Linked DNA regions of Homo sapiens. The protein of the gene in region 6 purifies or fractionates together with the protein of the main gene of each other region. This does not show direct contact. Each region holds a gene or a part of one and is shown on either strand. Other genes may lie near its edges. The genes, in order: MORC2, CCDC12, AHCYL2, NKAPD1, CACTIN, DHX8 and CDC40.

The links.
Region 1: the proteins of DHX8 (region 6) and MORC2 purify together in Homo sapiens (affinity purification with mass spectrometry; 3 studies listed by BioGRID and IntAct, with this or other methods). This does not show direct contact.
Region 2: the proteins of DHX8 (region 6) and CCDC12 purify together in Homo sapiens (affinity purification with mass spectrometry; 4 studies listed by BioGRID and IntAct, with this or other methods). This does not show direct contact.
Region 3: the proteins of DHX8 (region 6) and AHCYL2 purify together in Homo sapiens (affinity purification with mass spectrometry; 3 studies listed by BioGRID and IntAct, with this or other methods). This does not show direct contact.
Region 4: the proteins of DHX8 (region 6) and NKAPD1 purify together in Homo sapiens (affinity purification with mass spectrometry; 4 studies listed by BioGRID and IntAct, with this or other methods). This does not show direct contact.
Region 5: the proteins of DHX8 (region 6) and CACTIN purify together in Homo sapiens (affinity purification with mass spectrometry; 4 studies listed by BioGRID and IntAct, with this or other methods). This does not show direct contact.
Region 7: the proteins of DHX8 (region 6) and CDC40 purify together in Homo sapiens (affinity purification with mass spectrometry; 3 studies listed by BioGRID and IntAct, with this or other methods). This does not show direct contact.

Annotation. Positions count from the first base shown.
Region 1 is NC_000022.11:30,965,637-30,970,269, reverse strand, and holds the start of MORC2 (ATPase MORC2), read left to right. Parts: upstream 1-1,495; 5' UTR 1,496-2,380; coding exon 2,381-2,448; exon of another isoform or gene 2,449-3,204; intron 3,205-4,633. Other genes in the region: TUG1 (taurine up-regulated 1), read right to left, coding at 452-913. UniProt on the Homo sapiens protein: Essential for epigenetic silencing by the HUSH (human silencing hub) complex. Recruited by HUSH to target site in heterochromatin, the ATPase activity and homodimerization are critical for HUSH-mediated silencing.
Region 2 is NC_000003.12:46,966,489-46,970,431, reverse strand, and holds part of CCDC12 (coiled-coil domain-containing protein 12), read left to right. Parts: intron 1-3,943.
Region 3 is NC_000007.14:129,427,335-129,431,118, reverse strand, and holds the end of AHCYL2 (adenosylhomocysteinase 3), read right to left. Parts: 3' UTR 908-3,784; downstream 1-907. UniProt on the Homo sapiens protein: May regulate the electrogenic sodium/bicarbonate cotransporter SLC4A4 activity and Mg(2+)-sensitivity. On the contrary of its homolog AHCYL1, does not regulate ITPR1 sensitivity to inositol 1,4,5-trisphosphate.
Region 4 is NC_000011.10:112,080,397-112,084,339, forward strand, and holds part of NKAPD1 (uncharacterized protein NKAPD1), read left to right. Parts: intron 1-12; coding exon 13-162; intron 163-1,585; coding exon 1,586-1,639; intron 1,640-2,068; coding exon 2,069-2,576; 3' UTR 2,577-3,943.
Region 5 is NC_000019.10:3,620,067-3,624,009, forward strand, and holds part of CACTIN (splicing factor Cactin), read right to left. Parts: coding exon 3,622-3,943; intron 737-3,621; coding exon 641-736; intron 207-640; coding exon 61-206; intron 1-60. UniProt on the Homo sapiens protein: Plays a role in pre-mRNA splicing by facilitating excision of a subset of introns. Required for the splicing of CDCA5/Sororin, a regulator of sister chromatid cohesion. Involved in the regulation of innate immune response.
Region 6 is NC_000017.11:43,504,334-43,508,276, reverse strand, and holds part of DHX8 (ATP-dependent RNA helicase DHX8), read right to left. Parts: intron 3,634-3,943; coding exon 3,452-3,633; intron 1,275-3,451; coding exon 1,080-1,274; intron 775-1,079; coding exon 589-774; intron 469-588; coding exon 258-468; intron 1-257.
Region 7 is NC_000006.12:110,214,636-110,218,578, forward strand, and holds part of CDC40 (pre-mRNA-processing factor 17), read left to right. Parts: intron 1-650; coding exon 651-696; intron 697-3,066; coding exon 3,067-3,168; intron 3,169-3,943. UniProt on the Homo sapiens protein: Required for pre-mRNA splicing as component of the activated spliceosome. Plays an important role in embryonic brain development; this function does not require proline isomerization.

The DNA.
Region 1 (4,633 bases), on a different chromosome or scaffold from region 6:
TTCTTAACTCTTCTGGGTCACAGCCCCCTTGGAAAACTTGCTAGCGATGGATCATCATTCCCCTAAAACGCACATTCCCACAAATTCCCATCATTCCCCCAAACCGCACATTCCCACAATTTCAGGAAGTTTGGGGATCCCCAACTCCAATCCAAGGTTCCCAGGTTCAAAACCCAAGGATTGGGGAACTGCTAAGTTTTCTTACAACTCAAAAAAAATTATAAACAATAACCATCCTTTACGTACACCCACGCTTTATAGTTTACAAAGCGATTTCAACCCCACACACATTGATAGGCAGAGGAGGAAACTGAGGCGCAGACAAATTACAGAGTGACTCGCCTAAGGTCACTCCGCCAACTGGTGGCTAGGCCCGGAAGAAAACCCAGCTCTTCCGACTCCGGAGCTCGTCTCCCCACCCCGGGGCTGCCGCCAGAGCTCCCGCCCCTCACTAAGGCGGCATAAGGAGGAAAAGGCAAAGTAGAAATCCCACAACCAACCATCCTCCGGCCCCCTCCTGCCCCCCCAACTGGGTCCTTGCAGGCCCCGAAGGGTGGCGCCAGGCCTCCAAGCCGGCCCCGGCCACCCCCGCCTCCCCGGCCGCTCCAAATCCCGCGGCCGCTGCCGCCGCCGCCTCCCCCGGAGCGGGGCGGAGCAGCTGCCCGCCGCCGCCGACCACCCGGACGACTCCTCGTCGAATCGCAAACGCATAGGCCGCCGCCCGAGTTCTGCGTACGAGAAGAAAGACGCGGCGCGAGCGCCAACGGCCACCGGGCGCGCGCCGCGGCGGCCGGGCCTGCGCCCCAAGAGCTGGATGCCAGAGCAGGAGAAAGAGCCGCCAACCGATCGCTCGATCGACCGCACGCCCGTTCCTTCGCCCTACCAGACCCGGGAGGGGGGGAGGGCGCGCCAGGGCTTCTTCGATTTAGGGGCCTGACTCCCCGGCGACGAGACAAGATGGCTCCTCCGGTCCGCACCGCAGCTACCGTCCCGGCTGCGTCGCTCGGCCCGCCCCCGGTACTGTTTCTTTAAATGGCGGAGAGGGTCAGGAAAGCAGGAAGAGAGGCGCACGCTGTCACGTGACAGGGGCGGGACCGGCCAACCAAGATCCGGTCACATGGGGACACGCAGCCCGCCAATCAGGAGGCTGTACATCAGGGCGGGGGCGGGAGGAGCTGCAGCTTTGTGATTGGCTGAATGCTCCGCGGAGGCCTCGGGGGCTTGGGGCGTCGGGGAGTGTGCGAGGTGGCCGGGGCTGTGTGCACTATCGGAGACAAAGCGGTGGCTGTGGTGTCTGTGACGGCGGCGGCAGAGCAGCTCTAAACGCCGAATTTCGTGTTGCTGAATCCTGTCACCATCTCAACTAGCGCGGCGCGCGGGCGGCGCGCGGGCGGCGGCGGAGGCAGCGGCGGCGGCGGCGGAGGCGGCAGCAGCACATGGTTCCAAGAGCGCTCTGCGGCTGTTGGGTTCCAATTCCGCGGGGAGGGACAAAGGCAGTTGTGAGATCCGGGTAGTGCCCGGTCAGGTGGTGCGCTCGCCACTGCCCTCGATCCGGTCCTTGGAAGCCGGGAGTAGCTCCTCTTCGTGGGGAGGCGGCCACGGGACCGAGGCCCGGGAAGGGCCTGGGAGGCTGAGGCTGTTGTCTGAGGGACGTGGGGGCGGGGCGCGGCCTGCCCGAGGTGCTGTGGGCGGGTCATTTGTGAGGTGTTTATGTGGGCCAAGTGTGAGGTAATCTGACCACCACCCTGAACTGGGTTTGGTCCGGCTTTGAAAAAAGAAATCGTGAGTGCCTAGGAGCTTTTTCACTTGGGAGGTGGTGAAGCTGCAACTTGCGCCATATAACACTCCGTCGACATCTTGGTCTCCGGTCTTGGGCCTGTTTAAGAATCCTGGCATCACGTGTGGCGAAGACATGGCTGATCAGTTTTCTGACAGAAGTGGGTAAATTTCCGCGTTGGTAAATTTCCTGACAGGAAATTTCGGGGAACCAAAAAAGGCTGGAAGAACATGAAGATGGAGCAGTCATAAACCACCCACTCAAGGACCATCTCCTTCAGGACCATCCACACGAGACTCAGATTGTCTGAATTGAGCTATCGCAACTTAATGCTAAAAGCTCCTTAAAGCTACAGATTTATGACATAGTTCCTTCCAAAATATTACATCATAAATCATTGAGAAGATTAAAAAAAAACACTTGAAGAAATTGTAGTTTTAAACATCTCTGCATATATTTTGGATAGCTACTAGGTTACTTTAACTGTCATTAAGGAGCACAGACTTACTGAAGCTTTACTGGACAGAATCCTGGGAAATCGATATCATTATAAGGTTATATTTCCCAGTTAGCGGGTGAAGGGCTGGAGACCTTATTGCAGTCATGGCTTTCACAAATTACAGCAGTCTGAATCGAGCTCAGCTAACCTTTGAATATCTGCACACAAATTCGTAAGTATCCTCTAGGTGCCACTGAGGTAACCAGTAACTCGTTCCTTGATATTATATGGAAATCGTTTCCCCAGAAAATTTTGCTTTTTCACTTTTTGAGATGTATCCCACTGGAGTGAAATGTGTCACTGGATATCTTGAGCTCTGTATTGAAGAACTGAGATCAGTGAAATACTTGTTGCTAATCCAGAAGAATCTGATTTTTGTTTATTGGATCAAAATTTTCTAAATGCAAACTTTAGTTATTTGAAGTCAATATGTTGAGTTGTTTCATTCAAGTGTTTATAGGAATCCAACAAATACTGCTCTATTGGATCGCCAAATGTTGGACTATTTTAGTATCAACCGTTTCCCCTCTGTAGTGACAACGTCCTAAACAGTTAGGTTTATAACAAGTGTTTACTTTCTAACAAGAAAACAGAAGACATTTAAATGACAACTTTCAAGAAGAAAATTTTTATTTTTTCAGAAGTTGGCATTATCTTCCTGGCAGATTGCTCACATCCAATATTATTTGTATATGCTAAACAGGAAACGGCAACTTGTTTATATCTCTATTTAGATAGTCTTTCCCCAAAATTTCCACAGAAACATACAGTGTTCATGGTTCTTGAGTTCATGAAGGAGTAATCTAATCACTCCAACATGGTCTGGAATGTTTCAGGTTTAATCCATATGCCCACTCTCTTGGAGGCTGTCCAGTAGCGTCAAAACTTTAGTGTTTTAATACATTCACCTGTTACTTTTGAGATGAAGGTAAGTGTTCTAACATTCTAGTACCTGGAGAGGAGATGAGCAGCTACATGAATGGTCCAGTCTCTGAAGAACCCACTTCAGAGTCGAGAGTATAGACTTCCATTATGTAGTAATAGTACAATGGTTTTTAGCTTTTGATGGAGAAGACAACATGTTTGTGATATCATAATGTCTGTAATATTTCTATTTTTCCTTTAAAGGGAATAAAATTTTGCCAAGTAGTGAAGCAAACTGTCAAATGGTGAAAGCCTGTTTTTATTTTTTTTAGGAAGTTTGTTATTTTTTTGAGAGACGGAGTCTTGCTCTGTTGCTCAGGCTAGAGTGGGGTGGCGCAATCTTGGCTCACTGCAACCTTCACCTCCCAGGTTCAAACGATTCTCCTGCCTCAGCTTCCCAAGTAGCTGGGACTACAGGCATGCACCACCACGCCCAGCTAATTTTTGTATTTTTTTAGAGAGACGGGGTTTCACTATATGTTGGCCAGGCTGGTCCCGAACTCCTGACTTCAGGTGATCCACCCACCTTGGCCTCCCAAAGTGCTGGGATTACAGGCATGAGCCACCATGGCCGGCCTGTAGCAGTCACCTAGGTTGAATTCTAACACTTAAGTATGATGACCCTGAAACACACTTGGGTGAGGTTGCTGATTAGTGATTATTCAGCTAGTTGATAGCATAGCCTTGGGAAAAAACTTTAGTGTCCTTTTTAATGTTTGAACTGCCATATTAAGAACAAGCAGTTGAAGGCCACTTAAATGTTCATGGATGACTGTGTTTGATAAATGGTTATCTCAGCTCTGAATTTTGGAATGATGGTAAGTCTGGAATTACAGATTTTATGATAATCTTGGAAGACCATGAACTGGACTTCAGAATTTCAGTTCTTGTTCCAGCTTCACCAAAGACTTTATGGGATAATAATAGTAACAACAGTTAATTGCTTCATATCAGTCACTATTTTAAACATTGTCCAAAGCAATCTTTACAGGAAGCCTTTGGGATAAGGATTATTCCTATTTTGCATTTGAGGAAACTGAGGTTCAAAGAGATTAAATTACATGGTAATGGCTATATAGCTGCCAAGTGGCAGACTTAAACGGTGCCAAGATTTAAGACAGTGGGATTTATCTGGCCACAGTAGTTGGTGCTTTTAACCATTAGGCAGTGCCTACTGTAGTCAGTTTTACCTTCAAGAGCCTATTTGCTTGTCTATAAAGCAAAGGGTATACTTCACAGTTTAAAAGTCTTCAATTTTAGTTTATCTCAATGAATCTCTAAGGACTCTGGGATATTTCTCCCTTCTTTTTCCCCCTTTGCTATTTTATAGCTTATTGATAGATACTTGGCACTGCCAAGGAAAGGAAAGAAACCAGTTAAGTCATTTGTTGGGGAATTTTCTGGGACTTTGACTTACCCATGTTGAACTGGAA
Region 2 (3,943 bases), on a different chromosome or scaffold from region 6:
CTACCGGCCAGGCACAGTGGCTCATGCCTGTTATCCAGGGGTGTCCAATCTTCTGGCTTCCCTGGGCCACAATGGAAGAAGAATTGTCTTGGGCCACACATAATATGCAGTAACACTAATGATAGCTGATGAGCTTTAAAAAAAAAATCACAAAAAATATCTCATAATGTTTTAGGAAAGTTTACGAATTTGTGTTGGGCTGCATTTGAAGTGGTCCTGGGCCTTGGTCTGCGGGTTGGACAAGCTTGTTATAATCCCAGCATTTTGGGAGGTGGAGGCAGGAAGATCACTTGAGTCCAGGAGTTTGAGACCAGCCTGGGCAATATGACAAATCCCCATCTCCACAAAAAATACAAAAAATTAACCTGGAATGGTGTCGTGCACTTATAGTTCCAGCTACTTGGGAGACTGAGCAGGGAGAATTGCTTCAGCCTGGTAGGGGCAGAGGTTGCAATGAGCTGAGATCACGTCACTGCACCCCAGCCCGGGCAACAGTGTGAGACCCTGTCTCAAAAAAAAAAAAAAAAAAAGAAATATGGCTACTGCGACATTTAATTTTAGTTAGTTTACATTTAAACAGCCACACTTGACTCGTGATTGCCTTATTCGACGGTGCATCTCTGGAGGACTTGCTCCCTTCAGCCTGACTTACAAGAAACTGTGTCTCTACCTGAGCTCCAGTTGTTGAGCGCTAAGGGGCAAGTGGAAACCCAGATGACCATCACATCAGCCTTGGGAGCCCAAAGCTGGGCAGAGGGCTTGGAAGTTGGCCATATTCATGGCTGGTATCTCCATCAGATGCTGATTTGGGGCCATCTGTGTATGTACCCTGTGGAGTTAAGTGCTGGTGATTCAGAGTGGTATAGTTGTGATTTACACACTCAAGAAATGGGAGTGCGGGCCAGGTGTGGTGTCTCACGCCTGTAATCCCAGTACTTTGGGAGGCCAAAGTGGGCAGATCGCTTGAGCTCAGGAGTTCAAGACCAGCATGGGCAACATAACAAGACACCATCTCTACAAATATAAGTAAACAAAATTAGCCGGGCATGGTGGCCCGCTCCTGCAGTCCCAGCTATTCGGGAGGCTGAGGTGGGAGGATTAAAAAACAAACAGAAAGAAAAAAATGCACAGTGCAGAGAGTGGGAGCAATGCCAAGGTAGAAGGCATGCACTAGTACTCTCTGACTTGGGAGTACTAGGGAGGGTCCCTGGCCAGGTTGGGGGAGGGTAAAAGAGGGAACCAGAGGGAGGGGCTAGCAAGTCTTGCTGGAGGAACAGAGGCAGTGGGTGAGAGGCCTAGTATGCTGGGTGAGGAGTCAGACTTGTCCGTGTCCTGATCATGTCTCAAGAAGTTGCCTCTATCTACATCCCATGTGGCCACATCCCCAGGCCCAGCAGCCTGGTTGCAAAGTCAGCCAAGGCGATCACTGCCGCCTGTATTGACAGCTTTTGGCAGGTTGGCAGTCATAACATTTGCGTGGCAGTTGTGGCAGAATCGTGTTCCATCCCTGAAGCAGGACTTTGAAGCAGGGTGTATTGCTTCATCCCTGTCTGATAGACCAGGAAACCCTGGGCTGAAGGAACATCCCACAGTCGTGCTTTGAGTTGTTGCTGACCCTAGATTGTCCCTTAGGCTCTGGCCTTCTATCCCTCTACACCTCTCACCCCCAGGTGCTTGGGAATAAGTACCTCCCGGGAAGGAGCCTCCACCCATCACACATATAAACTGTAACCAGGCTGCCAGGTGGAGGCCTAGTGGTGGAGTGGAGAGAATGGACTTTGGAGACAGATCTGATTTAAACCTCTGCTCCATTAATCGCATCTATGGTACTCAGAGCAAGCCTTGAAAAATCTGAGCCTCTCTCTTGTCTATAAAATCGAGATACAGCTTCTGAACTCATCAGTAGCTAGGAGAACAGAGAAAGATGCTGTCTATGAAGTGTCTAGCTCGAGATCTTGCACACAGGCCTTTTATAAACGTGGATGCCTGTCCTTTCTTCTTTACCCTCTTGTAAGTGGGGACATCCAGGTGGTCCTGCAGCCTTCTCCGCTGGGTGACAGTGGGTGGAACTGGCCCGGTTCCAGTGGAAGCAAAGAGGTCCTTCTCCTGCACCCTGGCTTTACTCATCCTAGCCCTAATTTTTTGAAGATGGAGTGTTAGTGCAAAGTGTTAGATTAAGAAGAAAATGGATTTGCAGTCACAGCCGAGGTGGAGTGTGAGTGCCCGTTCTTCCTAAGGACTCAGCTTTTCTGCCCAAGCTCTCAGACTCCAAGGTTGTGGAGGCAGTGAGAGGGAGAATCTTCTGGGTGGGAGATTTGGGGTTCCCAACACATACCTATGGTGAGCCAGCATTTCCTTCTGAGGCCCTCAATATGTTCACGTATGAAATGATGGTGTTGGATTTATCTGAGTTTCTCAGACCTACCTGTTCGTTGGGTTGTCTTGAGAGACAATTTGCAGTCCTTTTTTCTGGCCCTACCTCAGACCTATTGTGGTCTTGGTATATAGCCTATAAATTCATGCATTCTTAAAGTTCCCCAGGTGATTCTGATGAATTTTTCTGGACATCTCTGATCAGTCCCTGGCATTCTCTCATTGGAAGAAGGATACTTTTTTTTCCCTTGGAACCTTAGCTGCCCATGCTCACTGCAGGAACTCTGCAGCTAGCCACTAATAAGTATTTATTGAGTACCAGCTGTATGACAGGCCCTGGGGATACAGCTATGAACAAGACTTCCTCCTTGCCTCAAGGGGCTTCTATGGAAGGAGTGGGAATACTTAGAAACAAGGAACATGGTGTCCCTGTTTATGTGTCCCAGGAACTTGGGAATGTGGTGTGTGTGTTGGGGAGAGGCTGTGCAGCTGCCCAGGCTGGGAAGACCACCACCTGGGAGTTCTGAGACGGGGATGGAGGAGTGAGATGCCAAGATCTAGGGAAGAGCATTCCAAGCTGAGCAAGACTAGCTTGGCATGTTTGAGGAGTAGGAGTAGAGTGAACAGTGGGAGGTATGGAAGGGGGATGAGGGTGGAGAGGGCCTGGGAGGCTGGGCTAGTTAGAAGGGGGCCTTGCAGACCACCAAGGCTGGACCTCAGGCTAAGGGGGTTGGGGAACCACTGGAGGTCTGAGCAAAGCTGACATGCCCTTGGATGACTGTGTGTGGAGGTAGGAGGCAGCTGCAGGAGCCCAGGTGTGAGGCAGTGCGCACAGACAGGGTTCCTGAGATGGCAAAGTACAGGGGAGAGGGGCTTTGAAGGGGAAGGCAAGAGTCTGGCTTTGGCCACATTAAGCCAGAGATGACTGTTAGACAGGTAAGCGAAGAGAGACATAAGCAGGCATCTGGACTAGAAACAGATACAGGATATCAAGCCCTGGGGCTAGACGAGGCCCTCTGGTGACAGAGCTTAGACCACAGAGACAGAGGACTGGGAGATCATTCTGTGCCCTGAGGCTCGCTCTGCAGGTATTTAGCAGGAGTTAGAAGAATCCAAGGAAACTTGGTGGGGTGGGGCGGCATGAGGACAGTGGGGCTGAGAGAAGCCAGGCGAAGACTGGGGATGGGTTTTGGCAAGACAAGGTGATAGGTGAGCTTGGTCCAGCTGTTTCAGGGAAGTGTGTGGTGCCAGTGGAATCCAGGCCAGCTGGGTTGAGGTGCAGCATGCTGGCCAAAGCCTTCCTGTAAATTAAGCCTCCTTTCCACTGCTTGAAGTCCTCACTGGACCCCAGCCGGGACATCCATCCCTCCTCTCAGGAGGGTAGCGCCAGTCTGAGGCAGTGCCCTTATAGCCTTGCTGTCTGAACTCACCTGGTGTTTGGATGCTGGCAGCCTTCTTGCTAGTGCTCAGGTCTTCATATTGCCACTCTAGCAACTCTAGCCCTTTTCTTTCGTTCTTTCTTTCTTTCTTTCTTTTTTTTTTTGAGACAGAGTCTCACTCTGTCGCCCAG
Region 3 (3,784 bases), on a different chromosome or scaffold from region 6:
TTTTGCACAATATTGTGAGGTGGAGAAACTTGTGCAGCAGTGGATAGCTTGGGCTTACCCTATGATTCTGAAATAAAGACCCAGGCACCCAAGGTTCCATCCTTCACAAATGAGGAGTCAAGCCCTACTGCAGGGGAGCAAATCCTTTGAGCTGACCGGCTTCATTGCTAGCTGCTGCATTCTCCTCCTCTTAACTGGAATGGCACTAATTTTGAGGATTACTGACTGCCCAGACGATTCTAGCCCTGTGTCCCTTAATCTAAATAATCAGAAGCCAAAGTGGCAGAAGATTCTGCTATGAAAAGAAAACATCTTGCATACAGGATGCAGAACTAGTTTAGGTAGTCAACTAAAGAAGGTGGCTATCAGAAAGCTACCCAAAGATGGTTACCCTACTGGCAGTTGAGAAAGAATAGGCAATTGGATTATCCTTTGGTTAAATCAGGCAACTTGATTTAGAGACAAATCTCTGCCTGATGCACTTCTTTCTTCCCTTTGGCTGGATATAATCAGGTCCTAGTTATCAAGGTCCTTTGGTCCCAAACTGGGGGATGCTGATTTCCTGCATTTTTCAACTAAAAGGGAGTCAGGGACCTAGAACTATGGTTTAGTTTCTCTGAGTTAAGCCTACAGTCCTCGACTCCCCAGGGTGGTGGTTCTGAGAAGACAGGTTCTTTACACACACAGCCAGGATGCGCGTGTATGCTGGCTGGTAGGAGGGGAACATGATATTTATTAACTAAGGTCAAACATGCCTATTGGTAACATTTTCACATCCTAAGGTCAAACATGCCCATTGGTAACATTTTCACATCCTTGCCCTACAGCAGGATCTCTAGTTTGTTGCCCAGAGATCTCTCTCATCTCTGAATTTCTAGTTCACAGAAACAAGAAATACCCTTAAGAGTCCATGTTAAGAATATTTTATTTGTTTTTTGAGATTACATAGTCATTATTGCTGATCTAATACAATCACTTAGACATAAAGATTTCCAAGAACTTCTCAGAAATGGTGATCTTTAGAAGTGTTATTCCTTTCAGTAAGATGACAGAACTAGATGATTACGTATATAGATATATAGATATATATATATATATGTATATATAGAGTTTAGAACCTGTCCACATATAATTTGCTGGTGTTGCCTATTTTCCTTCCGTAATTTTCCTTTATTGAAAAAGCTTAATGCAACAATGCATTTTGATTCCTTTTTAAAAACCACGGCAAAGTTAATTTTGAGAAAACCACAGGAGCAGCAATATCAGATCTGTTTAGAGAAAAGCGAAGCAGCATAAAAGCTTTGCAGGAGTATGTGGCCATGGGGAGCCGTGCTCATATGGGCAAGTAGGATAGGGAGGGAGGAGAGCAGAGGGAAGGTAGAGTAGATACATTTTTTTTCTTTGTTTAAATGAAAAAAAGAAAACTGAATATCTCCATTAAGAAGGCAAAAAAGTGCCAGGCACGGTAGCACACACCTGTGGTTCCAGCTACTCAGGAAGCTGAGGCAGGAGGATTGCTTGAGCCCAGGAGTTTGAGACCAGCCTGGGCAACATAGTGAAACCCTGTCTCTAAGGGTGAAAAGAAAAGAAAGAAAGAAGGCAAAATATTAGCACAGATTCATTGTAGAGAAAATGTTATGTATCCTCACAGACTGGAGCCACATACAAAGAGATAAGTAGCCTTCTTTCCCATGCTTCCAGATAACCAGGATGCATCTAAGGTAAGAGGTTGGAGGAAAGAAGACACATTGCTCTGATTCCAAGGGTAGAGGGAATAATGACCAGATTTCAACCCTAAGATAGAACCCAAATACTTGGGAGGCTTGTGGTTCTTTCTTCTTAATGGTTGATAACACAGTGTCCCTACAGAGAGGTCATCTGAAACTCAGAGGCAAATAACTCATCATGGGCAGCAACACTGGCAACCTAACTTAGAAGCCCCGTGTGGCCCCTTTTTTATTTGGAGTGGGTCTCTTCACTACAGCAAGGCAGAATGTACTCTTTAAGTACCAGCACATAGTAAGCTCCAGAGAGCAAGGCTTTGCTGAGAAACAGCAGGTTATGATTTTTGGTCTAAGAATACAATAGGCTAGAGACCATCTATCTGCCAAATGGAATCTGCTCTGGATATAAGATAAGGTACAAAGATCTGAATCCCTTGCTAAAGGGAACCAATTAATACAAAAATCAGGACTAGGTAGGCAAAAGGAAGAACTGAATGGCTTAGTGGAATTTTTAGCATTTATGATCTTCCTTACAAAAAAAGAATATAACCAGTACTTGCTGAGACATATGGCCTCTGAAGAACTGTAGTCTATGGGCTGAGCCTGTATACTATTAAATGAGGCAAACAGTCATTTACCAAAGTTCCACTTCCCTACTTCCGAAAGTAAGGTCACTTTCAGACTAGCTTTGAGAGTATATGTGAAGACCAGGAGAAGTTGGAGAGGGTAGAGGTAGAAGAAGAGAATCAGGATGGGAAGGTTTTGGTGATCATGCGTGGTCTGGTGTTATCTTGAGTCACCTTGGTCTTGAGACTTTGAGGCAGACCAGCATAGGAAAAAAGTGGGAAACAAACAAACCTGAGAGTGTTAAAAAGGATCGGTAAGGGGAAGAGGCTTATTTAATTCAAGTTTCCTAGGGCCAGTCCAGACTAACTCTTAGAACCAATCTGGTCCTAATGAAATGCCTGAGACCAACAGATCAGTCTCCAAAAGGAATCCAATTTTTGGGTGGGACATAAAATGTCACGCTGCCCACACCACATTACTAATTCTTTTTGTAGCACTGGAGTTACTCAAGAAACTGACTCTGAAATACAGAATCATCAAATGGAAGAGGTTAAATCATAAAAGATATGCCAGCAGAGAAGTCCACAGATCAGACTGCAGATCTCGGTTTCATCCATGGCAATGGCCAAAGGAATGAATGTCTGACGAGGTTCAAACTAGTCAAATTAGCTTTGATAATCTGGATACAGTTTACAATTTCATCTCTGTATCCCTCAGCCAGTCAAACTGCAATGGCCTTCCTGGGAAACAAATAAATATACTCTGCTTTGTTAGGGTATCAAGCTGTGAGTCTGAAAGACCTGTCCCATTTCCAAAGCCTATCCCCCTAAGTCCCTGGAAAAGTATGCCTTTCCCTACTCAGTTTCAGACGTAGCTTTAGGCAATAGCAGGAAGTTTCAGGAAGCAGTGTTTCACAACAAGCTCTCCTTTTCTGAGATAGTGCCAATCTGGAGGGGCTTCCTTGGAAACTATCCAATCAAATGACAAGGAAGTAAAACTATGGGTCCCAGTGGAGCTGGCCCCACTTCCTGAGCAGACGTTGGCTGGATTAGAAAGACAGCAGAACAAATGTCTGACAAATACCAAAACTGTGGAGGAAATAATGGAGGCACATCCCTCTTGCAACCAGGAAGTGTTAAAATGGACATAAATATTCAAGGAGAAGAAAGGAGTCCTGGGTAAGAAAGGAGACCCCTGGTAGGCACAGCACAGCTGAGTTCTTGATGTAGCTTGGCAAAGCCATAAATAACACTCCTTCCTTATTAGCCTTTATATAAAGAAGGCAGTGATAGTGATGGTCAAGATTGGGAACCCAATCTTGTGTGAAACACTGGCCATGTTAATTCCAAACGGCCTCACCCGGGGAAGGGCCAAGCTGAGAAAAGCAGGTGCTGAAAATTTATTCCAGAAAACTCCAGGGAATAGGGAGTATGGAATCCCTGGACTAACTCGTGAGCCTGGACAAGAGGAAAAACGGCCACTGCTGAGGATTC
Region 4 (3,943 bases), on a different chromosome or scaffold from region 6:
TTTCTCTTTTAGCCGGATGCGCAGTGATGGTTTTGATGAAGAAAGTCAAAGATACTATTGGAGGCCAAAGAATGAAATTTCTGGGACACTGGAAGATGATTTTCTTAAGGCTAAATCCTGGAATAAAAAGTTCTATGATTATGAAGCAAACATGCCAGACAGGTTTGTGATTAATTCCTGTGAGCATTAATATTTGGCCTGAGAACGTGTACTTATCAAAATTAATTGTCCCCACAAAAAACTTGTGTACAAAAGTTCATACCAGCATTATTAATAATGGCCCCAAAAAATAATGGCCAAGTAATCCAAATGTCTGTCAACTGATGAATGGGTAAACAAAATGCGATATATCCATACAATGGAATATTATTTGGCAGTAAAAGAAATGAAGTACAGATACATGTTACAACGTGGCCTTGAAAACATCATGCTAAGTGAGAAGGAAGAAGCCAAGTCACGAAAGACCGCATATTGTATGATTCTATTTATGTACTATGTCCATACATAACTGTATGATTCCATTTATGTGGTAGGCAATTCCATAGAGACAGAAGGCAGATTAGTGATTGCCCTGGGCTGGAGGCACTACACTTTGAATGCCATGATATGTGAATTATACTTCAATAAAGTTGTTATTTAAAAAAAATAGGCCAGGTGCTGTGGCTCATGCCTGTAATCCCAGTACTTTGGGAGGCCGAGGCGGGCGGATCACGAGGTCAAGAGATTGAGACCATCCTAGCCAACATGGTGAAACCCCAGCTCTACTAAAAATACAAAAATTAGCCGGGCGTGGTGGCATGCGCCTGTAGTCCCAGCTACTCGGGAGGCTGAGGCAGGAGAATCACTTGAACCCAGGAGGTGGAGGTTGCAGTTGAGCCGAGATTGCACCACTGCACTCCAGCCTGGCAACTGAGTGAGACTCTGTCTCAAGAAAAAAAGAAAAAAATAATAATAAGGCTGGGCGCGGTGGCTCATGCTTGTAATCCCAGCACTTTGGGAGGCCAAAGCGGGCAGATCCATGAGGTCAGGAGTTTGAGACCAGCCTGGCCAACATAATGAAACCCCATCTCTACTAAAAATACAAAAATTAGCCAGGCATGGTAGCATGTGCCTGTAGTCCCAGCTACTCGGGAGGCTAAGGCAGGAGAATCACTTGAAATCGGGAGGCGGAGGTTGCAGTGAGCTGAGATCACGCCACTGCACTCCAGCCTGGGCAAGAGTGAGACTCCATCTCAAAAAAAAAAAAAAAAATTGTCCCCATGTAGACAGCATGATATTATGAAGTGTTTTTGGAAAAGTGCTTCATAGCTAAAGAGCAGAGTGTAAGAGTTCGTTAGTGTTTCTTAAGGAAAGCAATGGCAAGTTCTCTTACAAATGGACAAAATAATCTTGTATGTCTGAAGTGATAGTGTACAGTACAGGAAATGTAGCTGTTACTGAGCTATAATGGGGGCTTGGTTCTACCATATCTCTACTTTGTGTTTATGTTTGTGTATGCATGTACTCCAAAGTCTTTCTAATGTTGCTTTAATTTCCAAAAATGTATGCATTGCTTTAACAATACATGTGATGTGTCATATTACAGATGGGGTCACAGTGGTTATAAAGAGTTATACCCTGAAGAATTTGAAACAGACAGGTAAGGAAAATAGGCTTACTGAAAGAAACTAAGATGGTACAAAATCTGTATTATAAATTGATTTCTTAACTTTTACGAAGAATATACTTGCCATCAAAAATGTAGCTAGAGAAACAATAGGTGATTTAGTTAGGAGGTGATCCCTGTTTTCCCATTCTCTGGTTGATGTTTGGCATGTCTGTAAGCATTTTGGTTTTTATATATAGTATTCCATACAGTAACTCAGTATGGCAGCTTAGAATTTTTACCTTCATTTTAAAGATGAGGAAACAAAAACTCAATGAGAATATTAAAGTGTTAAAGTATACATTAAAGTGCTTATTTAAAATTCAGATGTTAACCTCAATTTTTTAATCTAGAATGCAAAATATTAAAATAATACGCTTTTTTTTTACATAAAAGCTTCTATTTTTTAACTTTTCTTATTAGTAGTGATCAGCAAGATATTACCAACGGGAAGAAAACATCTCCCCAGGTAAAGTCATCTACCCATGAATCCCGCAAACACAAGAAGTCAAAGAAATCCCACAAAAAAAAGCAGAAAAAAAGGTCACACAAAAAACAGAAGAAAAGCAAAAAGGAAGCCACAGATATAACAGCAGATTCCTCGAGTGAGTTCTCAGAAGAAACTGGGGCTTCTGGTACAAGGAAAGGGAAACAACCACATAAACGCAAGAAAAAATCCAGGAAAAAGTCTCTCAAAAAACCTGCTTTATTCTTAGAGGCAGAAAGTAACACTTCACATTCAGATGATTCAGCATCCAGCAGTTCTGAGGAAAGTGAGGAAAGAGACACTAAGAAAACCAAAAGGAAAAAGAGAGAGAAAAAAGCCCATACCTCTGTAGCCAACAATGAAATACAGGAGAGGACAAACAAACGCACAAATTGGAAAGTAGCTACAGATGAAAGGTCTGCTGAGAGCTCAGAGGATGACTAAATGGGAAACACTTTTGTTTTCCACATGACTGTGGATATTTACAGTTCTTACTCCTTGTGGTTTTGCCAGTGACTCTTGTTCAGCACGGGGCCTGAGGTCAGAGCTGTCTTGTGCCATCTGTATGTTCTGACAGACGTCTTGTCTTCTATTTTGGCGTTAAGCTTGATCCCCTTTTCTTGTTAAAAGGGAATCTGGTATTTTGTTATGAAGGTTTCTTGAAGAGATTATTTTTTTTTGCAATTAATTACGTTTAGTGTAGAGTGCATATACAGCAAATTAAAGGACCCAGAAAGCTGGATCCAATAGTGACCTGGGTACACCAATCGGAATATTGAATTTGGGGAAGTCAAGGGCTGGGATCAAGAGGTGGATTGGAACTAATGCCATGTAGGATGGTATGACAAGGCAACACTGTATTGCTCTCTGTTTATATAGCAGGTGTCACAACTAACTTGTCTTTAGCCTTGGTGCTTTGATCCTTCTATATTTTGACCCCACAGGTGTGGTCCGGTTTACTTAATCAGGACATGGGCCTAAGAACAAACCTTTTCCCTTCATGATAACATCCATAGACAACTTATTAGAAGGGACTAGAGTTTTTGCAAATTTCCCTGCTGGATGGGGCCTATAGCTATACTTAGTATATGCCTAAACATGGTAATTGGATAGTAAATGGTTTTCTAGTTCCATTGCTGTATATTTGCCTAAATGGACTTGTGTTCAAATTATTTCTTCAATTGTCATAGATAATCCTGTACCAAATGGGGAAGAATTAGGAAATAATCATGTTGTCTAATGGTACTCTGGATTCAGGGCAGCAACTGCCATTTAAATGTTGTCTTGTTCATTTCTAAATCTGTTCATGAAGTTTAGGTTTTCCCTGAAACTAAGTTGAATTATTTCCAAAATGAAACAGGCTTCTCAGGGACATATCCACTTCTTCCCAGTCTGCCTTTGGATTAAAGCACCAAGCAGAGACCACATTAATTCCCTTTGCTATACTGTGATCCTTAGTATGTTAATTCTTAAGAAACCAACATATCACTGAAAGAAGGCTGGCAGAACGCAAGTGCATTTTTTCACTGTGGGAAGAAAGATCAAGTGACGTATTATTTTTTCCTGGTTGTCACTTAATGGGCTGAGTAAAAAGCTTGAAAACTCAGACTTTCGGTCTTGGTTCTGCCACTCATTGGTTATGAGGAGGCCCAGAGCAGGTAAGTTCACCTTCCTGGCCTTACTTTCCTGATGTGTAATACGGAATTACTTCACAGTAGCATGACAGTATAAGACACCAGCAGTAGATACAACTATGATGACATTCCATGAGTTGGTATTTTTAGTTCTAACTGCTAAATTTGTTCTCTTTA
Region 5 (3,943 bases), on a different chromosome or scaffold from region 6:
AGCCAGTGCCCGGCCCTGGCTCCAAGTCTGGGTCGGAGGGAGGGGGAGGCCCCAGCGCACCGCAGCTTGGCCTGCTGGAGGTGGAAGTTGTCCTCCTGCTCCTCCCATGTCTTGAAGTGCTCTGCCTCCTTCTCGCGCTGCAGCATCTCCAGCTCCTGCTCGCGCATGGCCTTCTCCCGCTCCCGCTCCAGCCGCAGCTGCTTCACCTGCAGGCACAGGAGGCTGAGGGCAGCGGGGACCGTGCGGTCTGCAGGGCTGCGGGGGGAGGGGCTGTGATGATGGGGGCCCAGCCTTCACCCAGCTGCCCTGGGCACAGGGATTGGTCCGGAGATGCCTGGGCTGGTGGACAGACCTTGGGAAGGGAGAGGGCCCTCCTGCCCGAGACTCAGCAGCTCAGATCAGCTGGGGCCCTCTCGGCCACCCTGAAGGGAGCATGTGGGAGTGAAGGCCCGAGGCCAGCAGAGCCGAGAGGTGGAGGGAAACAGTTTCCTGGGGCCATGGTCTGAGCCCCTGGATCCAGCCTTACCTGAAGCCAGCCCCCAGGACTTCCCACTTAAGCCCCTCAAGTCCTGCCAAAGGGGGCGGGCCTCCAGGCCCTGGAAAGGGAGGGCCCTGCCCAGTGGGCTGGCAGGGTGCCTACCTTCTGCAGCTCCAGCCGGTTGTCCTCCTGGATCCTCTTGTTCCGCTCCTTCAGCTCCTTCTCCTCCAGGTGGCTGATCCCCTTCTTCTCCAGGGCCTGGAAGCACCAGGCACACCTGCCCTGAGCACAGACCCGCCCCCTCGCCCCCCTCCTCAGCTCCTTCGTCCAAGAGATTGACCAGGGCCCTTGTTTTGCAGAGAGAGGTGACCTGCCAGCACTGCACGTCTTCCACCCCCTCCTTAACACTCCTGAAACCCAGTGCATCCAATTCAGTGCAGACATGGAGCCCCCACTGGGAGTGAGATGTATGCAAAGGGTAAGAAGGGGCTACCCCAACTCTCAACAGGAGGGCCTCACTCGGGGCCGCCCCAACTCCCAACAGGAGGGCCTTGCTCGGGGCCACCCCAGCCCCCAACAGAAGAGCCTTGCTCGGGGCCTGCTGACTCGCTTTACCCGGGAGTCTGAGTGCTTCGGACGTGAAGGCCACGCCCTCAGCAAGTCAGGGTCCCCCACTGCACGTGGGACAGGGCAGGAACAGTGAGTGGGGGCAGCAGCAGCTCTGAAAGCAAACCTGTGGGGTCATGGGGCCCCGCCCACACAGCGGGGCACAGGGGTGGCCACTGATGGGCTTGTCCCAGCCTGGAGACCCTCAAAGCTGGCTTCTTCCAGCAGCTGTCTGAGAGCCTGGCGCGGAGCCCCCACTTCCCGACCACCTTCCTCAGGCTCCCGGTGCCCCGTCGCCATGAGGGGGTTCCAGGAACCCCTGCCGCCCAGAACTTGCCTCCAGGGACACAGGCTGCCTGGCTGGGGACCACCCCCAGACACCCGGGCCACTCTGTGGTCTATCCAACCCAGCCTGGGGCCGCTTCCACAGGCGTCAACGATGACCACATCTTCCTCCTCCATGGCTGCCCGCCCAGAGCTCACGGTGGTGCCCAGCACACCGCAGGTGCACAGCACATGGTGGCGATGAAGTGCCAGGCAGCAGTGTGTGCCTCAATAAAGAACTCTGGGGGGTCTGGGGAGCAAGGGGCCAGGAAGGGGTCTCTCAAGAGGGGATGTGTCAGTTGAGGCCTGACGGAAGAGAACAGCCGGGGAAGGGGCAGAGCATGTCCAGGCAGGGGCGCGGCAGTGTGAGGGCCCCGAGGCGGAAGGAGCTCGTTGTGTTCTCAGACGACATCGGGCAGAAGCCACCTGGAGACCCCACAGCTCCCAACTGCGCAACCGGCGAGCAGGTGCAGTCGGCCCAGCCCACACGTTGCCTGCTCCACCCCCTCCACAAGTGGATGCTGCTTCAGATGAGCTGTGTCCCCCACAGGCACATCCCCGTCTGAACCCCTGCAGCTGTAATCATGACCCCATGTGAAATGAGGTCTTGGCCAGGTATGGTGGCTGACACCTGTAATCCCAGCATATTGGGAGGCCAAGGCGGGCAGATCACTTGAGGTCAGGAGTTCGAGACCAGCCTGACCAACATGGTTAAACTCTGTCTACTAAAAATACAAAAATTAGCTGAGTGTGGTGGCACCCGCCTGTAATTCCAGCTACTTGGGAGGCTGGGGCAGGGGAATCACTTGAACCCAGGAAGCGGAGGTTGCAGTGAGCCGAGATTGCGCCTTTGCATTCTAGTCTGGGCAACAGAGTGAGACTCCATCTCAAAAAAAAAAAAAAAAAAAAAGTGATGAGGTCTTGCAGACGTAGGTAAGATGAGGTCATCCTGGAGGTGGCGGGCCCTCATCCAATGCCTGGTGTCCTCATGGGAAGAGGAACATTTACACACAGACACACAGAGCAGAAGGCCGTATGGAGACAGAGACGGGAAGGCAGACCGCCACACAACACAGGAACAGGCCGGGTTCTGCGGCTGCAAGCCAGGGAGGGCCCAGGAATCACCGGCCATGACTGGAGCTGGGAGAGGCAGGAGGGGCCTCCCCTCGGCCCCCAGAGGGAGTGGGGTCCTGCCCACACCTGCCCACGCCTTGATTTTGGACTTCTGGACTCCAGAACGAAGAGATGATAAGTTCTGTTGTCTTATGCCACTGGTGTGACTGGTGGCTAAATGGCAGGCGCAGAACGAAAGAACCAGCTCAGACGACAGAGCGCCTGGAACTGTGGAACCCTGTCCTGGGTACATGATGCCAAGAGCTGGCTCTCTAGATAGGTTTCAGGTTGGGCTGGTGTTCGGGGCAAAGAATGGCTGAAGCTTACACCGCAAGAGACACAGTTAATGGCAAGAAAATGACGGTGGGCTGGGCGCAGTGGCTCATGCCTGTAATCCCAGAACTCTGGGAGGCCGAGGTGGGAAAATCACTTGAGCTTAGGAGTTCGAGACCAGCCTGGCCAACATAGTGAGACTCCATCTTTACAAAAAAATAAAAAATTAGCCGGGCATGGTGGTGGTGCCTGTAGTCCCAGCAAGTCAAAACGCTGAGGTAGGAGGATCGCTTGAGGCCAGGAGGTCAAGGCTGCAGTTAGCCACGATCACGCCACTGCACTCCAGCCTGGGTGACAGAGCGAGACCCTGAGTCAAAAAAGAAAGCTGGCCGGGCGTGGTGGCTCACGCCTGTAATCCCAGCACTTTGGGAGGCCAAGGCGGGTGGATCACAAGGTCAGGAGATCGAGACCATCCTGGCTAACATGGTGAAACCCTGTCTCTACTAAAAATACAAAAAATTAGCCGGGCGTGGTAGCGGGCGCCTGTAGCCCCAGCTACTCAGGAGGCTGAGGCAGGAGAATGGCATGAACCCGGGAGGTGGAGCTTGCAGTGAGCCGAGATCACACCACTTCACTCCAGCCTGGGCGACAGAGCGAGACCCTGTGTCAAAAAAGAAAGCTGATAGCGGCAGAAGCTTGCTTATGCGTGTGTGTGTAAAACCAACTCTTGCACGATCAAGGGCAGGCTGGGAGTGTCTCAAGTGTTGGGGTCTCCAGAAACAGTGGAAATGCTACAGGGACAGAGGCCACCACCCGGCGGGGCCCACCTTATTCCAGATGAAGGTGCCCAGCAGGTTGTTGTCTCCGAAGGGGTTGTCGGTGTTGGTGTAGCCCATGTACTCCTCACCCCAGCCCATCTTCTCCCGCTTCTTGCGCTCCTTGGCCTCCTTCTTGGCCAGCCGCCGTGCGCGCTTCTCCTCGGGCGTCTCGAAGGCCTTCATCAGCTCCTCCTGCTGCTTCCGCTCCTCCCGCAGCCGCAGCCGCTCCTGCAGGCTCTGCTGCTGGCTCAGGGCAGCCGCGGCCGCCCGGGGGCTCTGGGATCGCCCTGGAGACGCGGAGCTGGATGCTGAGGAGCTAGGAGACCACGAG
Region 6 (3,943 bases):
TATGGTGATATTAATAAAACTTCAAATAACAGAACATATGCATTCATATTCTGACCAGTAAGTAAACAATACAAGTTTGTTTATATATGACATTATAACCACCATCATTTCAAACATACAAGCCTGAGGCTTGCAGAGAGATGAATATTTAGAAGTTGTTTTTAAAAAGATTAGCAAAAAAGATACCCATATGAGGACTTTTGGCCTAAGAGGGAAAATTAGGCCTCCCAAAAAGGAAAATTGCTTTTTCCCCTTACCTGGTGGTTCTGTTAAATGAATCTGCATAACAGTAATCAGGCTGGCATCCAGATAATCTGTCTCAGGTTCCTTTGTGTACAGTATTTCCACTGGATATGTTCGACCTGGGATGGTGAAAATGGGAGCTTCATAGAAGTATTGAGAAAACTTCACTGCATCCAAGGTGGCTGAGGTGACAATCAGCTTCATGTCCTGCCGTTTCTGAACTGTCTGAAGAGAAATATTATGTGGCTTACTGAAAAGGACTACCCAAAGACACAGGTACTCAAATCCAACTGCCAGAATTCAGCTTCCAACAGGTAGAGGGGTCATTAAAGAGCATCTAGTTACCTTTTTCAACAATCCAAAGAGCACATCAGTGTGAATTGTCCTCTCATGTGCCTCGTCCAACATGATGATCGCGTACTGAGTGAGGTCAGGGTCAATCAAGCACTCTCTAAGCAACATCCCATCTGTCATGTACTTGATGACTGTTTCAGGGCTAGTGCAGTCCTCAAATCGAATGGTGTAGCCCACCTAAAGCAGAAGAGAAGGGGAAAACCTAGGATACAAATGTCTCCTTTTCCCAATCACCAGGCAAGATTTCAGCCCAGTCACTCTCACTCATAATCTTAAGAATCTGATCAAGATGTACAGTAATTTCCTCATAGTAAGGTATGTCTTAGACTATACTCTGAACAGACTGATTATGACAATGGGAACCCTCTCTCCCTCAGGAGAAACCTGAAAAAAGGCAGTATTATTAATATTTCCATTTGATAGATTAAGAGACCTGGGCCTTTGCTTCTGGTATTTTTCGAGCGACTCCACTATCTACTTACCTCTTGGCCTAAGCAACAACCAAACTCCTCTGACACTCTTTTGGCCACCGACATAGCTGCCACTCTTCTGGGCTGGGTACACCCAATCTTGCCCCTGGAAGTGTAGCCTGCCTCCGCCAGGTACTGGGTGATCTGTGTTGTCTTTCCAGATCCTGTCTCACCAATGACAATCAGGATCTGATTGTCATGGACGGCCTGAAAGCAACAGAATATAAATATGGTCATTAAAATCTGCCAGAATATAAATATGGTCATTAAACAGAATATAAATATGGTCATTAAAATCTACATTACTCTGGAATAAAATAATTACTATATTCTAACACCAAAGAAAAGAGGAATATACACATATAGTTAAAGAAGTCAACAATGAATTTAAAAGATACATAAAAAATGTTCCTTCCCACTGTAACTCCCAAATTTCTATATCTTTCCCCAAAAGTTATTTCTTATTTCTACGTTGTTTGTAACAGCCAAGGATTACAATCAACGATGTTTCTATGGATATAGGACTAGTTAAATAAACCAGAGCCTATCCAAATAATACAGCCCATAAAAAAAGGCTTTTTTTTTTTTTTTGAGATGAAGTCTCACTCTGTCGCCCATGCTGGAGTGCAGTGGCATGATCTCAGCTCATTGCAACCTCCACCTTCCGGATTCAAGTGATTCTCCTGCCTCAGCCTCCCAAGTAGCTGGGACTGCAAGTGCCCGCCAGCACGCCCGGCTAATTTTTGTACTTTTAGTAGAGACAGGGTTTCACCATGTTGGCCAGGCTGGTCTCGAACTCCTGACCTCAGGTGATCCGCCCGCCTTGGCCTCCCAAAGTATTGGGATTACAGGTGTGAGCCACTGTGCCTGGCCTGGCAATTTTTTTTGTTTGTTTGTTTAAGAAGGCCAGGCACAGTGGCTCATGCCTGTAATCCTAGCACTTTGGGAGGCCAAGGAGGGAGGATTGCTTGAGTCCAGGAGTTCAAGACCAGCCTGGACAATATAGTGAGACCGCATCTCTACAAAAAATACAAAAAACTAGCTGAGCATGATGGTGTATGCCTTGTAGTCCCATCTACTTGGGAGTCTGAGGTGGGAAGATCACTTGAGCCCAGGAGGTAGAGGTTGCAGTGAGCTGAGATCAAGCCACTGTACTCCAGCCTGCACAAAGCGAGACTCTGTCACACACACATACACACACACACACACAAATCTCTGAGATATATCATTAAGTGGAAAAAGATGTAGAACAGTGTATATAATATCACTGCCACCTGTAAACACACACAGTACTCATATAAAATGTGTGTGCGTGTGTGTGCATATATTTGTACTTGCTTGTATACATATAAGATATTGTTGAAAGGATTCACTAGAAACTAGTAAACCTGATTACCTCAAGGAAGACTCGGTGGTCTTAAAATCAGAACTCCAGAATATAGAGTACCGAAGCACTCTATGAGTTGCCCATATGAGTTTATTGACTGAGTATCCTCATTTTTAATTACTGAACAGAGCTGTTGGTCCATGCAACACAATACTCTGCCCACTTGGAAACTGTTCTAGGGGCCCCAGGAAAAAGAAGATATACAGACACATACATAAGTATGTGTGTCTGTACACGCACACACAAACATTTGTGATATGGGGTCTCACTTGGTCGCCCAGGCTGGAGTGCAGTGGTGTGATTGCAGTTCACTGTAGCCGCGACCTCTCAGGCTCAAGCAATCCTCTTATCTCAGCCTCCCGAGTAGCTGGGATTACAGGCATGGACCACCACACCCAGGTAATTTTTTTTTTTTTAGACAGAGTCTCTCTCTGTAGCCAGGCTGGAGTGCAGCGGCGTGATCTTGACTCACTGCAACCTCCGACTCCCTGATTCAAGCGATTCTCCTGCCTCAGACTCCAGAGTAGCTGGGATTATAGGCATGCGCCACCACGCCCAGCTAATTTTTTGTATTTTTAGTAGAGACAAGGTTTCACCGTGTTGGCCAGGATGGTCTCGAACTCCTGAACTTGTGATCCGCCCACCTTTGCCTCCCAAAGTGCCGGATTACAGGTGTGGGCCACCACGCCCCACCAAATTTTTTATTTTTTGTAGAGACAAGATTCCCTATGTTGCCTCAGGCTGGTTTCAAACTCCTAGGCTCAAGTGATCCTCCTGCCTTGGCCTCTGATGTGCTGGGATTATAGGCATCCACTACCGCGCCCAGCCCCATTTAAAAAAAAAGTATTTAGAAAGTTTTATCCTTCTTTCTTAACTCTTTTGGATGAGCCACTTCAAGTAGGCACATACTTGTCCCGTTAGTTTCAGTTTAAAAATATCACCCCTCTTTTAGACAATAACCCTACTCCCCACCAATACATCATAAAAGTCTTCTCACCTGGACCAATTGCTCCTTCAGTTTGTAGATGGGCAGGCTCTCCCTCTGCTCAAGGATTGACATCTGGGTCTTTTTTCCGTAAGAGGCTTTGTTGCCCCCAAAGGCATGCTTCTTCCACTCAGGAATATCATTGGGCATCATCCCAATACCCCTCATGTTGGCAGCAATCTGTCTGCCTTCCGCTGGAAAGGAAAACAGGCAACTTAGTATTGTCCTCAAGCTACCTCAAGATGTACCAGGAAAAAAATAAAATGGCATGCGGGCACTGCACATGCAGCATCTCAATTCAGCGACCCGTGATCAAAAGTACTCAAAGAAACAAATTAATGTGAAGAAAAGAATATAGAAGGGGCAGCAGGGAATGGGAAAGAGACTGTAACAAGTGGTGCTACACACCTGTGATGTCAGAAAAAAGGTTAGTTGAGAGAAGTGAAGACCTGACTGCTTGACACTGGAATTATTTTTTTTTAGGTAGGGTCTTGCTCTGTCATC
Region 7 (3,943 bases), on a different chromosome or scaffold from region 6:
TCCTATTGGCACCAGTGGCAAGGAAATGCTTTCTATTTTAGAGTACTAGCAACATTGTTGAGAATTGGATTCAAGGCAGTCAAGAATAAAGCTAGCCTTGAAGCTATTGTATTAATCCACCTTAGATATGCTGAGAATTATGAGCCTTTTATTTTAGTCTAGATCATCATTTTCTTACAGCTTCTGTAATACTTGTTATTCAGAAAAGTAAACAGAAAAGGCTTTCAGTATCAAAATGTTATATACATGGCAGTTTTAATAACAATTCCTTTAAACGTCATTTGTAGTGCTACAAAAGTAGAAACTTTTCATCCTAGAAAATGTATGAAATAGAAAAGAACAATATGAAAATGAAAACTTACCTGAATTAACTCCATCTATAGTTAAGTCTCTTTTTTGATGTAAATATCTTTAAAACTCTTTAGTTTTGAGCGTGTGTGACTCTGTGTGTGTGTGTTCCAAATAATATAACACAAACTGGCAGCACCAAGCTATATTTAATGATATTCAGTGTTTAATATTTAATGATTGAAGCTGTGCGTTTACACACACAGATGTGCACACACATAACCAGCATAGGGCTGTTGTTATTAATTGAAGGACCTTTATTAAATGTAATATTTCCATGTGTTGTTTTTTTTCTCCCCCAGCTATGGGAGGTTTATGGAGAACGGCGCTGTCTGAGAACATTTATTGGTAATGCTTCTTTTCTCTCCAACATAAATCTGGGAAGAATTTTTAAAGTAAGATAACATCATTGACAATAACTTTACTACACCGATAGGAAGTAAACTCTTCATAGATTTCAGCTGAATCTGGAAGGAGGAGTCAGTGTCCCCAGTTAGACAAAGAAAGAGAACTAGGAAGCAAGAGCAGCGGATGCAAAACAAAAATGGTGTGAGACAGCGTGCTGCTGAGGGGATCCACGTACATTTCAGGATTGTCAGAGTATGGGGGATGGTGAGAGACAAAAGCGGAGAAAAGTAGCAAGAGAGGGACCAGAGTATGGAAGACCTCCTGTGCCATTAATAAAGAGTTTAGCCTCTGTTGTGAGGGCATTGGGGAACCATTAAAGAGCTCTTGCCGGAAAGCAACATGATTTGAAGTTTACAAAGATCAAATGGCAATATGCAGGATGATTTGGTAGGGCAAGCCTGGAGGAAGGGAAATTAATTACACAGTTATTTCATAGGTCTGGTTTAGAGATGATGAGCGCCTGAACCAAAGCAGCAGAGAGAGAAAAGAAAGGAACTACGTATTAGAGTTAAAGTCAGTGAGATTTAGTAACGGCATGTGAATGATCACAGTGAGACAGGAATCTAGAGTGACTCCCATGAGGCTGGATGAACGATGGTGCCATTCACCAAGAAGGAACATAAGATGATGGTAAGGTTTTAGATACACCAAATTTGAGCTGCCTTTGGGATATTGAGGTAAAAATGTTCAGTAAGCAATTAGATAGCCAGAGGTCGAGCTTTGAAGAGAGACTGGGAATTGACAGCTAAAGCATAAAAAAAGGATGAGATTGAGAGAACTCCTTGAAGAAAGAAAGAAGGCCAAAGGGAGGACAGCTTTGTGACAAACCAGATTTTTGGTAGAGAAAGGTTTATTGTCTTTGTCAGATTTCATGTGAAGGCTAGTTACTCATTCCAAATTTAACTGTACCACGTTGAAACGGTGTGACTCGTAGTGGCTCTGTTTTTAGATTAAAGTGGGAGTCTGTTCAGCAGTGCTTTATGATTTTAAGGCCTCCCTGCACAAATTAATACTGCCTAAGATGTCACCGCAGCCTAAAGGAAGACTTGTGGAAGGCTCTCAGCTGTGTACAGGGGAACAAAATGTCTCCATCAGATAGAGTGGATTTGGTCCGCATCTGTCTCCCCTCTACTGGCAGACCATTTTTCTGTGGAAAACTGAAATTTTCCTCCTGAAGGAGATGATAGAAGCTCTGACTGGGACTCCAGCTGTAGAAAAGGATGCCTAATTACCATGACACGTACCTCCTGATGGGAGTTCACTGGAGGTGATGGTTTAGAGCTGCTGCATGTGGTTAACAATTTGTGCCATGCTCATTTTGCACAATTGTACGTGTCTTGGTCATGGTGGGGTGGCAAAAATAGGAACATTTTTGCTTTTGTTTAGCCACATTTTATTTTTCCCTGTAACTTTTAAAAGAGTTGAGTGAACTGGCAATATTCATTTTTAAGTAAAGTATAATAATCAGCACCTTAAAATTAGTGTATTATCAAAATATCATCTTAAAGCAAAAGAAGGTAGCCTGGGCAACATGGCAAAACCCTGTCTCTACAGAAAATACAGAAATTAGCCAGGCGTTGTGGTGTGCACCTGTAATCCCAGCTACTCGAAAAGCTGAGGTGGGTGGATCGCTTGAGCCAGGAAGGTTGAGCTTACAGTGAGCTGAGATCCAGCCACTGCACTTCAGGCTGGGCAACAGAGCAAGACCCTATCTCAAAATAAAAATAAAAAACCATGCAAGCTAATATAGTTTTCAGAAAGTCTCCTACATTCTGAATCAGTTTCTATGAAATTTGGTAATGTGATCACAGAAATATACAATTATTGAACAAGGGCTACAGTTTCCTGAACTTTAGGTTTGGGGCACTTTGTTTTCACTTGCAGCCTGGTGGACATTCTGAGAGTGAACCTCCAAAATTCCAGCAGCCATTTCTTTCACTGGCAATAATTGGTCTTTTACATTTCCATAAATTCTTGGCTAGCTAGTCATCACTTGTATGTACTGCATATTAAGTAATTGCTATGGCAGACTTAAAAGAAAAGTTAAACCTTTTCCTCTTGGTTCTTAACCAAGATGTTATGCATCAGAATCACCTGAGGAGCTTCTTCAAGGGGAAAAAAACGCCCACATTCTGAAGCCCACACATAACATATTCTAAGTCAGTAAATCAGGCGGTGGCATTCCAGTGATCTTGACTCACAGCTGAGAACCACTGCTTAGTGCTGTTTGTCTTTATGGTGTTAATGTTTTAAGAGAAGAAGATATATGATACTTCACCTCATTGCTGTTTCTGTTGACTCCACCTTTAGGTCACAGTAAGGCTGTTAGGGATATCTGCTTCAATACTGCAGGAACACAGTTCCTCAGTGCAGCCTATGACAGGTATCTTAAGCTCTGGGACACTGAGACAGGTAAGAGTTCACTTATGCTAATACACATTCATCTTACAAGTTATTTATATTTGAAATGGTGTGAGTAGTCTTTTGTGGCAAAATGGCACCTTCTCTAACTGCTGATTCTCATACCATTCACTGTCAGCAAATATCACAAAATACATTTGTAAGTCGAAACTGAGCATGAGTAGCTCTTTCACTGTGAAACTTGTTTCCACCAGATAGATTTTATAAAGCAAACGTACTGACAAATAAGCAAAGTGGAAATCTTGTATAGGCCATCTAATTGATTTTTTTGTTCCCCTACATCACCTAGCACTGTGCATTGCACATAACAGAAGTGCAATAAATGTCTAATGAACAAAATTAAATGTATTTGCGCAAATTGATTAAAATGTAGGTCTCAACTTTCACAGGCCAGTTGGTTTTATATATTCACAGCCATACTAATTGCTGTTTATTAATTGATTCACATTAATATGTTGTGGCTAGTATAATTTTATGTAATTATAAAAATTATCTTACTATCTTATTGTCTTACTGTCATTACCCTTACTGCATCTGAAGGGTAATGATAATAGTTAATGTTTATTAAACATCATTTAACAGGCATAATTGCTAAGCACTGATATTCAGTGTCTCCTTCAATCTTAATTTATCCCTATGAGGTAAGTACTATTATTATATTATAGATAAGGAAACTGAGGCTTAAAGAGCTAACTTTTTCAGGGTCACACAGCTAATAAGTAGCAGACTTGGGTTCAAACGAAGCTCTCTCTGATGCCAAAGCCCA